Linked DNA regions of Homo sapiens: region 2 is linked to region 1. The links come from fine-mapping of genetic effects on plasma protein levels. A gene starts in region 1. The other region holds a variant in brackets. All regions are shown on one strand. Distances are between the middles of the regions.

Region 1 (5,373 bases):
CAGGCTGGAGTGCAGTGGCGCAATCTTGGCTCGGCTCACTGCAACCTCCGCCTCCCAGGTTCAAGCAATTCTCCCTGCCTCAGCCTCCTGAGCAGCTGGGATTACAGGCGCCTGTCACCATGCCTGGCTAATTTTTGTATTTTTTAGTAGAGATAGAGTTTTGCCATGTTGGCCAGGCTGGTCTTGAACTCCTGACCTCAGGTGATCCACCCACCTCGGTCTCCCAAAGTGCTGAGATTACAGGTGTGAGCCACCACGCCTAGCCTAAAAATTTTTTTGTGCAGACAGGATTTCACCACTTTGCCCAGGCTGATCTCAAACTCCTAAGTTCAAGCAATCCTCCCACCTTGGCCTCCCAAAGTGCTAGGAAGACAGGCATGAGCCACCGCACCTGGCCCACAGCGGCATTTTTCGGTGCCCTGCCTGTACTGGTAGTCAGATTCAGCCAGTGTAAACCCTGGACTCTTAACACATGCTCAGTCCAAGCTGACAGCCACCAAATGAATTTAAGTGTCACCAGGGTTCAAACCTTTAACAGAGAGAAAAGCCAGAGACTGTCAGAGAAATTCAAGTTAGAAAACCCATTGCTTCACTAGGGCTTTTGTCTTGGATTCGGCCCTTGCCTATCCTGTAGGCACCCTGTCACCTTCTCCTGTCCACATACATGCCACACTCTTTCAGGCCTCTGGGCACTCACACTGCTGTTCCCTGTATGGGATGGTCTTACCCCACTTCAATGATAACCCTTCCTCAGAGACTTCTTGGCCACTCTAAATCAGCACCTGCTGGTCCATTTTCTTCATGACACCCAGACATTGCATTATTTGTGTGTCCGACTGTCACTTCTTTCCCCTGATATTCCCAGTGCCTAGCACATAGTAGGTGCTTAATAAAGACTAACAGGATAAAAAAAAATCACAGTTGCAGAACACATGCTGCTTTGGGAAGGACATAGAAGCACTTCAGTCTTCTCACATTAGTTTATGGAGAGAGTAGCTGGCTTCCTGAACAGAGAGGTGGGCAAGGCCTTTTATCAAACGGCTGGTGAAGCCGAGGGTTAACATGAGCCAGGGCCAGTTGGGGAGGATCACCAGCTACTTACCAACCGATTCTCTTTGCCTCTTGCTTCCCGGCAGAACTTTATAAGTTCGTTTTCAATAGTGGCTGGTGAGAATGTGACATCTCTGTCTTTGAGGTCCTGGTAAAATCTTCCCAGATAAGAAATACAAACTGGAAAAGAGAGGGACGGGAGATGCTCAGCAATCACCAAGCTGTTCCAATCCACCAGAAAAGAACTCCGCCAGCAATTTTAATAGGAGACACGGAGATGAATCATTAGAGGTGAGCTTTTCCATCACCGATTTTTCTCAGGTGTCTACAGGTAGACAGAACCCGGTTCCAAGTGGCGGGGGTCCCCTGGTACACCCAGGGCATCAAAGGACCAAGCATCACCCAATGACCTATAAACGACTTCTCCCTGCTCCTTTCATCAAGTTTAAGCCCATGGTGAACACGTGTCCTTGAGACGGGACTCACTGTGACCTCATAAATGGAGAGACTGGAAGGTGAAGAGAAAAATGATCAAAATGCTGCTGCTAATTTCCAAATACAACAGCGGACCCAGAGGTGCAGCTTCGTGATCCCAACAGACAGGGCGCAGCACCCACGGCCAGCCCTGGAGCTCCCGACGCCGAACGGGGAGCGGTAACCTCTAGATGGTGGTGGGGACAATAACTCAGGAGTGATGGAGATTTCAGGACAAGTTTTCAACGGGATCTAGTCTCAACTTTTCTTCGTCGGACCAATGTTTTCTAGGCCCAAGAAAGATTTACTAGGGCGGGCGCCGGAGCCTCCTCATGCAGGCCCCGCGGGGACCTGCTGTCGCCCCCGCCCCCGCCCCCGCCCTCGCCCTCTTGGCCCCGGCCGTCTGGTGATGTTGTGGGGTTCAGCGCCGCCGCCAGAACGGTCACGGAGCGCGGCCCCCGGCCCCCTATCCCGCACCTTCGCAGTCGCCCGGCCGCAGCGCCCGGCTGCCCGGCAGCACGCTCAGAGCCAGCGCCACCGCCAGCCCCTGCGTGGCCCACATCCTCCTCATCCTCCTCATCCTCCTCCTCCTCCTCCTCCTCCGCTGCCGCCGCCGACCGACTGAACCGCACCCGCCGCGCCGCACCGCCTCCAAGTCCCGGCCGCGCGCCGTAGCTCCCCATTGGCGGGGGGCCCCCCGGCGCCCTCCCACATGCCACTTCCCCATTGGTCCAGGAGCCGCGAGCCCAGACGGGCGGCTCCACGCTGCCCTCCCTCATTGGCTGGTGGTGTCTGAGCCCTAGACAGTTGTCGGCCGCTGATTGAACCCGGGCTGGCCGCAGGAAGCGACTACAGCAGCGACGGAAGCGGTGTGGGCCGCCATCTTGGGTAAGGGCAGCGACTGTGGCTGAGGCTGGGTACTGCTAGCTGAATGGGGTTCGGCCACGCCTTACATCTGTTGAGTTGACCCGCGTACCCCTGCCCTGGGCCCCAGGCTCCCTCGAAAACCCCTGCTGATCTCCTCGCCCGGACTCCGACTCGTGGTGCAGGAGTTCTGGGGTCAGCCAAGACAACAGGTTAGGCAGGAAGGGCGGGCGGCCGCAGGCAAGGCTCAAAGAGGTTTCTTTTTTCTTCTTTCATTCGCGTGGGCAACGGATCCAACCTTTGAAAGCCCACCTGCTGATCCTCCACCTGACCGGAGCCCGCCGTGCATAGGCTGATAGGAGACGTGCGGGGTGGACGGACTGCGGGACATCTGAAGGAAGGGCTCAAGGCGCGCCAAGCTCAAAGCTGGGCCGCCACTCTAGACCGTGGAGGGAAGCGCCCGGGCCAGATCATCGGTCGAGGACATGGGGTCGCCTCAGAGTGGGAAGGTGAGGGGCTCGGGAGGTGCCCTTACAAGCTCTGAATCGTGGCTTGGTGGCTGGCCAGCCTCCTCCTGCCTCCCCGGCTAGGCCCTCGGGGTCCCCCGCTGCCGTGGGACCTCCTGAGTGGGGTCCCGGGAATCACCAGAGAAGCACTGGAGGATGTTTCCTTTTCGACTGCCCTCCTTTCAAGTGCCCTCCTGGCTGCCTGCCTTCAAGGCAGGATGCGGGAACCGTTGGCTCTACTCAGTGCAAAAAGGACATGTCTATAGGGCTAAAAAGGGCTTGGAGCCCGGCGACAAGGGTTGGAGAGGGGCACATCCTCTGCTCCCATTCAGTGAATTCAGTGGATCAGTATCACGTATTTATCTTTAATTCACATCACAGCAGTCAAGGAAGTGGGGAAAGGGGGAAAAAAAATCAAGTGGCAGATATTTACATCTAAAATTCACATTACTTGTTGGATTTTGAACATGCTACCACAATATATACAGTAAAATACCTCTTGGGACAATGGTACAAATTTTGTTTCCTTTAACTTTGCTTTTCTGGTACAGGTAAGATCATTTTTAAATCACTTTTTTTCTTTAAACATGAATACACAAAAGAAATGGTTAGAAGTTTCCTTGTTTTAAATAAGCACAGAATGCGGGAGGTTAAAAACACATTTATAGTGCTGAATACCAATTGGACATCACACTCTATACATTTTTTGCTCAAATTCCTGTACAAATACACAGCATTCAAATAGGTATTTACAAATAAGCTTGAAAGAATGAAAATCAGTATTTTACAATCTTTTCAAAGGGTTCTCATCTCTGGCCTCCCATTTCCCCTCAGACTGACTTATTCTCCAACAAAAGGGATTTCAGAATGTGTCCTTTTCATTTAGTTAGGGAAAATGGAGAGGGAAAACAAACGGTTTCACCTTGCATAATGCGAAGCCAAATGAACCCATACTCCCCTCCCTACCTCTTGTGCCACCAAGTGGAGAAGGTAGCTGTTCTTATGTGATGACTGCCTTGTCCAGGGATTGACTTTCAGAAGTGCCTTAAAATCTAAGCCCTCCTACCTATGAATCAAATCCAAAACTAGCCCCTAACCCCTAACCCTCTAACACCTGTGAACACCAGATGGTCCAGAGATTGAAGCTTGCAAATGAATGTAGGCTGAGAAGCAGGCCAGCCCTTTGAGGTGAGGGCTGCTGTAACTGACCCATATCCTCAGCAGCCTTCCGCCCCACTCTGCCTGGAGTGAACCTGGTGGTATCAGAAGGGACCCACACTGGTGATAAACCCCCAGAAAAACCCTGGAGGTAATTTAGACCTCCATCTTTCCCAGTAGGTTATTAGCATTTCTGTTAAACAAGCTGGGGTTTGTTTACAAGAGAAAAACACACTGACCATGGCCTTTACTGTCTGGAAAGAGGGGCAGTGGAGAAGGGACAAGGGGCTTGGGCCCAGGGCCTGGCTGTGGAGGTCATACAGGCCAGCAGAAGAGGAACTGGGGGCAATACGCCTGCCCAACAAGGCAGCCTTGTGACCATCATTAATGTGAACTCGAGCAAATAAAAGAAAAAAAATATTTTGTAGGCTTTTTTTAAAGTAACTTAAAAGCACCCTGGTAAAGTACTACTATACCCACCTGACCCTATCCCCCCAAATAATAAACTGAGAGGAAAATCAGTGCCCTGACTTGAATGAGTTTCCTCTAAAGACACCACTGCTCTGCTTTATAGTTTCCTATAAAGACACCAACAGACTGGGGAGACTGGAGAAACTACCCTCCTGCCAGCCCCGAACCCTGAGTGGTGGTCCCCATGGCCTGGAGTGGGTTGCTGTATGTGGCCACTTGGGAGATGACAATTCTACCTGCATGGCTATCTGCTTCCAAAAGGAGAAGCCCCCTCCCACCCTCTTTACCCAGGAGCCTGCTGAACCTGACCACATGTCCTCAGGGCCTGGAAGCCTGGCTGGGCAGCCAACCCCATGGCTCAGAGGTAGTGCTGAAAATCCCTGATTCAGGAGCTGATGGTAGGCATTCTGGATGCTTCTGAAAGCTTTGAGGATTTCCGGCGCCTGCCACACCCCACACTCTTACACCAGTCTCTCTACCACATAGGAAGGGGACCAGCTCCCCCTAGGAGGAAGGTAGCTAGGATAGCCTCTCTGGCTCCATACCTCCACTCAAACCCCAGAGGGCGGGAGATAACCCTTGCAGATCCAGTCACCACTGGGGCTCCTGTGGGGCATGAGGTGTTTCAAGAATGGAAGGGAGCAAATGGTCAGAAATGATGTGATGGAGAGAAAAATCCAAGGTGGAGTAGGAGACGGCTGGCCCATTGAACCCTGGCAGTGCCCTGGGCATGCAGTTAGGCCAGTCACATGCCTGAGCCAGCAGGTTGGTCCAGCCAGCCCCTCAGTAGCACACTCCTGGATGGAAGAGGGGCAGGTGGGCAGGCATTTGTGCAAAACGGCTTGTGGCC
Region 2 (5,373 bases), 98 kb before region 1:
TGCGTGGCAGAATATGACATTTTGATTTTAAGGCTACTTTTATAAAGAAGTTGATGCCATAACCTGTCAAACATTTGCGTCTCATTTATCCCTTTTGGATCCCCTTATAAGCCTCTCATATGTGGGTGTCTTATTTGGTCCTCCAAAGCTCACCTCAGCTCCCTGCCCTTCTGCATTCCTAGTTTGAACCACTCAACCCAGCCAACCTTCTCTGCCTCTCTTCTAGCCTCTTCTTTCCAGGAAATCAGCTGTGAGAGAGGTTAGGAAGCTTGAAGGATAAATGAGTTTTATAGTGTTCCTTCTCCACTTTCATGCTGGCAGTAGTGTCCATTTCATTTCTTGGCCTTCTCTTTAAGAATTAACAGAGCTGGGCGCGGTGGGTCACGCCTGTAATCCCAGCACTTTGGGAGGCTGAGGCGGGTGGATCACCTGAGGTCAGGAGTTCGAGATCAGCCTGACCAACATGGTGAAACCCTGTTTCTACTAAAATACAAAAATTAGCTGGGCGTGGTGGTGCATGCCTGTAATCCTAGCTACTTGGGAGGCTGAGGCAGGAGAATTGCTTGAACCCGGGAGGCAGAGGTTGCAGTGAGCCGAGATTGTGCCATTGCACTCCAGCCTGGGCAGTAAGAGTGAAACTCTGTCTCAAAAAAAAAACAAAACAAAAAACGGAGTTTGAGACTAGCCTGGCCAGCGTGGTGAAACTGCGTCTCTACTAAATGTACAAAAATTAGCCAGGCATGGTGGCGGGCGCCTGTAATTCCAGCTACTCGGGAGGCTGAGGCAGGAGAATTGCTTGAACCCGAGAGGTGGAGGTTTCAGTGAGCCGAGATTGTGCCATTGCACTCCAGCCTGGGTGACAGAGTGAGACTCCATCTCAAAAAAAAAAAAAAAAAAGAAAAAATTAAACAGGAGTGTGCCATGCTGTTTATCTTTGATAGAACTTCCCTCAAAGGACTAACGAGCAAAATATTTTGGGAGTAGTTTTGGCCACATTTTGTGCTTAAAAAAATGTAAGCACAAAGTTTTAGACCTCAGAGATCTAGGCCTGGGATTATTGTATATATTACAGGTAGGCATTAGGTAAATCTATTTTTTTTTCTTTTTGAGACGGAGTCTTGCTCTGTCGCCCAAGCTGGAGTGCAATGGTGTGATCTCGGCTCACTGCAACCTCTACCTCCCAGGTTCAAGTGATTCTCCTGCCTCAGCCTCCCAAGTAGCTGGGATTACAGTCACCTGCCACCATGTCCAGATAATTTTTGTATTTTTAGTAGAGACAGGGTTTCATCATGTTGGCCAGGCTGGTCCCGAACTCCTGACCTCAGGTGATCCACCTGCCCCAGCCTCCCAAAGTGCTGGGATTACAGGTGTGAGCCACCATGCCTGGTGGTAAATGCATTTTTGATGAGGGAAAGGTACCATATTTTTTGTCTCATTTTCAAAGGGACTCCTCAAAAGGTTAAGAATCACTGTTTTGATCCAGCTTCTTGCCTCATTTGACAGTTGAAGCTGAGGCTGAGAAAGGCGAAAGTACTTGTTCATCACTACTGAATGGGTATCTAGGCTTGATGAGTATCCCGAGTTTTCTGCTGTACCACAAATAAATCCAAAGGGTTCAAGGGGTTAAATTTCCCTTTTTAATTTTTTCTCTTGCCTTCTCGTCCTTTTCTACCCCTTCTTCACTTTTATTTGCTTGTGTTCATTTATTGGTTGTCTTTTTTATTTTTATTTTTGCTTCCTTAGGCAAAGCCATGACTACAGTAGTGGTACATGTGGACTCCAAAGCTGAGCTCACTACCCTGCTGGAGCAGTGGGAAAAGGAACATGGCAGTGGGCAGGACATGGTACCTATCCTTACCAGGTATGAATAACTTTTTTAAAACCTAGTTTAATAAAAAACCTCGGACACAACTCATACGCTAGATTTCTTCATACACACACACACACACACACACACACACACACACACAAACTAGTTTAAAAAGAAGCAAAAATTGGTGTGGAGAATAGCATAGGAACATTTTCACCTAGACTGTAAATTCTAAATCAATTTTTTTCTTTCCTCAGATTTAGTCTTTATCTCCCTACTTCCTGAAGCTGTTTAATTTTCTTATTTAATTTAATTTAATTTTTTTTTTTTGAGTCAGAGTTTTGCTTTGTTGCCCAGGCTGGAGTACAATGGTGTGATCTCGGCTCACTGCAACCTCCGTCTCCTGGGTTCAAGGGGTTCTCCTGCCTCAGCCTCCCAAGTAGCTGGGATTACAGGCTCCCACCACCATGCCCGGCTA[C/A]TTTTTATATTTTTTAGTAGAGACGGGGTTTCACCATGTTGATCAGGCTGGTCTCGAACTCCTTACCTTAGGTGATACACCCGCCTTGGCCTCCTCCCAAAGTGCTAGGATTACAGGCGTGAGCCACTGAGCCTGGCTTTTTTTTTTTTTTTCATACGGAGTTTTGCTCTTGTTGCCCAGGCTAGAGTGCAATGGCGTGATCTCAGCTTACTGTAACCTCCGCCTCCTGGGTTCAAGCAATTCTCCTGCTTCAGCCTCCTGAGTAGCTGGGATTACAGGCGTTTGTCACCACGCCCAGCTAATTTTTGTATCTTTTTAGTAGAGACGGGGTTTCACCATGTTGGTCAGGCTGGTCTTGAGCTCCTGAGCTCAGGTGATCCACCTGCCTTGGCCTCCCAAAGTGCTGGGATTACAGGTGTGAGCCACCATGCCCAGCATATTTTTAAATTAAAAAAATAAAAATAAAAAAAATTAGACTCATTTCCCAACTGTTTGGTGAATGTATCTTTTTTTTTTTTTTTTTTTTTGAGATGGAGTGTTGCACTGTCTCCTGGGCTGGAGTGCAATGGCACGATCTCGGCTCACTGCAACCTCCGCCTCCCGGGTTCAAGTTATTCTTCTGCCTCAGCCTCCCGAGTAGCTGGGATTACAGGTGCACGCCACCACACCCGGCTAATTTTTGTATTTTTAGTAGAGACGGGGTTTCACCATGTTGGCCAGCCTGGTCTTGAACTCCTGAGCTCAGGTGATTCACCTGCCTTGGCCTCCCAAAGTGCTGGGATTACAGGTGTGAGCCACTGCGCCCGTCCTGGTGAATATATCTTTACCTGGCTCTTCTGGCTCTGTTTTTTTGGAGACAGGGTCTCACTCTGTCACCAGGCTGTAGTGGCATGATCTCAGCTCACTGCAGCCTTGATCTCCTGGACTCAAGCCATCTTCTTACCTCAGCCTCCCTACTAGATGAGACCACAGGTGTGCACCACCACACCTGACTAATTTTTAAATTTTTTGTAGAGGGAGGGTCTCCCTGTGTTACCCAGTCTGGTCTTGAACATCTGGGCTCAAGCAATCCTCCTGTCTCGGCCTCCCAAAGTGCTGGGATTACAGGCGAAGCCACAGTGCTGGCCTACTTGGCTCTTCTACAGATACCTGAAACAGACCATGTCCAAAATTGAGCTTATCATCCTCATTTCTGTGTGTCTCCTCATTTATTCATAACTTAATGCTTTTTTTATTCCCTACCTTGGTTTTAAACTGAATGGTTTTAAACTGAAAAACTTTTTTTGTTTTTATTTTTTGGGGGGATGGAGTCTCACTCTGTTGCCTAGGCTGGAGTGCATTGGCATGATCTTGGCTCACCACAACCTCCACCTGCCAGGTTCAAGCAATTCTCCCTGCCTCAGCCTCCTGAGTAGCTGGGATTACAGGTGCCCGCCACGACGCTGGCTAATTTTTGTATTTTTAGTAGAGGTGGGGTTTTGCCATGTTGGCCAGGCTGTTCTCGAACTCCTGACCTCAAGTGACCTGACTGCCTCGGCCTCTCAAAGTGCTGGGATTACAGGCGTGAGCCACTGTGCCCGGCATATTTTACCTTTCATTTTTTTTGAGACGGAGTCTTGCTCTCTGCCCCAGGCAGTGGTGCGATCTTGGCTCACTGCAACCCCCACCTCCTAGGTTCAAGTGATTCTCCTGCCTGAGCCTCTGGAGTAGCTGGGATTACAGGCATAAGCCACCATGCTCGGCTAATTTTTCTGTTTTTTTTAGTAGAGATAGGGTTTTGCCATGTTGGCCAGGCTGGTCTTGAACTCCTGACCTCAGGTGATCCACCCACCTCGGCCTCCCAAAGTGCTGGGATTACAGGAGTGAGCCATTGCGCCTGGCCTGCATTAGGTATTGCTCATGTCTTGACTGGCCCATTAAGCAGTGTGCCTTATAAGTTTACCCTCCAGTTTACCCTCTTTTAATACATCCTCCCCCTTGCTGAAAGATTCCTTTTTCTCATACACAAATAGGATTTTCCTACCTTCATTCATACCTACATTCTTCTCCGACTTCCTTTTTCCTACAGAGTAAAATGTAAAGTTTTTAGTGTGGCCTATGTGGCCATTTATGATGTGGCTTACTTTCATAATATTGTAGTTCTTTCGCTGTAAAAAGTAAGAAATCAATGCATAAAAAGTTGTTTTCACAGCTATGATATTGGGGATGGGATGTTGAGGATTCCCACGTTCCAGTGACCTTCTCCTTAGAAAACCCATGAGCACCTCTACCCAGCCTTTACTTTTCACTCTTTCTACCTTAACAGATTTTTTCAATAAAATTATGTACCACACAGTTATTAAGTACCAGGCAGTGGGTAGATCATCATTTGAGGAGACACCAATAAAAAGACATAGTATGTGCTTTCAAGAATTTTACAATTTAGTGAGGAAACACGTGTAAAAAAAACGGTTCTAGTATAGTGTGGTATAATGGCAGAAAATTAAAATACATACACATGAATGATAGGAGTATTAAAACAAATCAAGGGGTGCTGGGTTTGGTGCCTCACACCTGTAATCCCAGCCCACTGTAAATGGCATCACATCATAAGTAGCCCCACAGGATGAGAAAAAGGAGGATGGCCTCTTTTTTCTCCCTCATAGTATTAGTCTCTTTCTGTAAGTATTAACTTTTTTTTTTTTTTTTTTTTTGAGGCAGACTCTAGCTCTGTCGCCCAGGCTGGAGTGCAGTGGCACAATCTTGGCTCACTGCAACCTCCGCCTCCTGGCTTCAAGCAATTCTCCTGCCTCAGCCTCCCGAGTAGCTGGGATTACAGGCGCCCACCACCACGCACGCCCAGCTTATTTTTGAATTTTTAGTAGAGATGGGGTTTCACTGTGTTGGCCAGGCTGGTCTCGAACTCCTGACCTCATGATCCGCCCACCTCAGCCTCCCAAAGTGCTGGGATTACAAGCATGAGCCACCCTGCCCGGCTGGATTAACGTATTTTTTAATGTCTTTGTGCCTTTACACTTGGTATTTCTTTGGCCTGAAATGCCTTTCCTTGGCATGTCTGCATGGCAGGCCTAGTCCTTAGAAGAAG

Alleles and levels. Positions count from the first base shown, and alleles are read on the strand shown. Strength reflects both the effect of a copy and how common the allele is.
With allele A in place of C in region 2, the plasma level of the protein whose gene starts at base 2,147 in region 1 is higher (strong association).

The links. PIP is the chance, under the fine-mapping model, that this variant and not a neighbour inherited with it causes the effect. Protein levels are from antibody-based Olink assays in UK Biobank. Linkage for the fine-mapping came from a reference panel and not from the study's own genotypes, which makes the PIPs less certain.
Region 2: its variant is fine-mapped to the plasma level of the MANF protein (UK Biobank, PIP above 0.99).

Annotation. Positions count from the first base shown.
Region 1 is chr3:51,382,065-51,387,437 of GRCh38, reverse strand. It overlaps MANF (mesencephalic astrocyte derived neurotrophic factor), which reads right to left and starts at 2,147. Exons shown (of 4, transcript NM_006010.6): 1 at 2,002-2,147; 2 at 1,103-1,230. The coding sequence starts at 2,095. DOCK3 (dedicator of cytokinesis 3) reads right to left here. Exons shown (of 53, transcript NM_004947.5): 53 at 3,240-5,373. RefSeq lists a silencer at 1,952-2,321 and an enhancer at 2,382-2,731.
Region 2 is chr3:51,480,207-51,485,579 of GRCh38, reverse strand. DCAF1 (DDB1 and CUL4 associated factor 1) reads left to right here. Exons shown (of 25, transcript NM_001387579.1): 3 at 1,744-1,861. The coding sequence starts at 1,752. Among named protein-coding and RNA genes, the nearest start is that of DCAF1, 17 kb to the left of the region's middle. The variant C/A (reference allele first, on the strand shown) is at 2,289.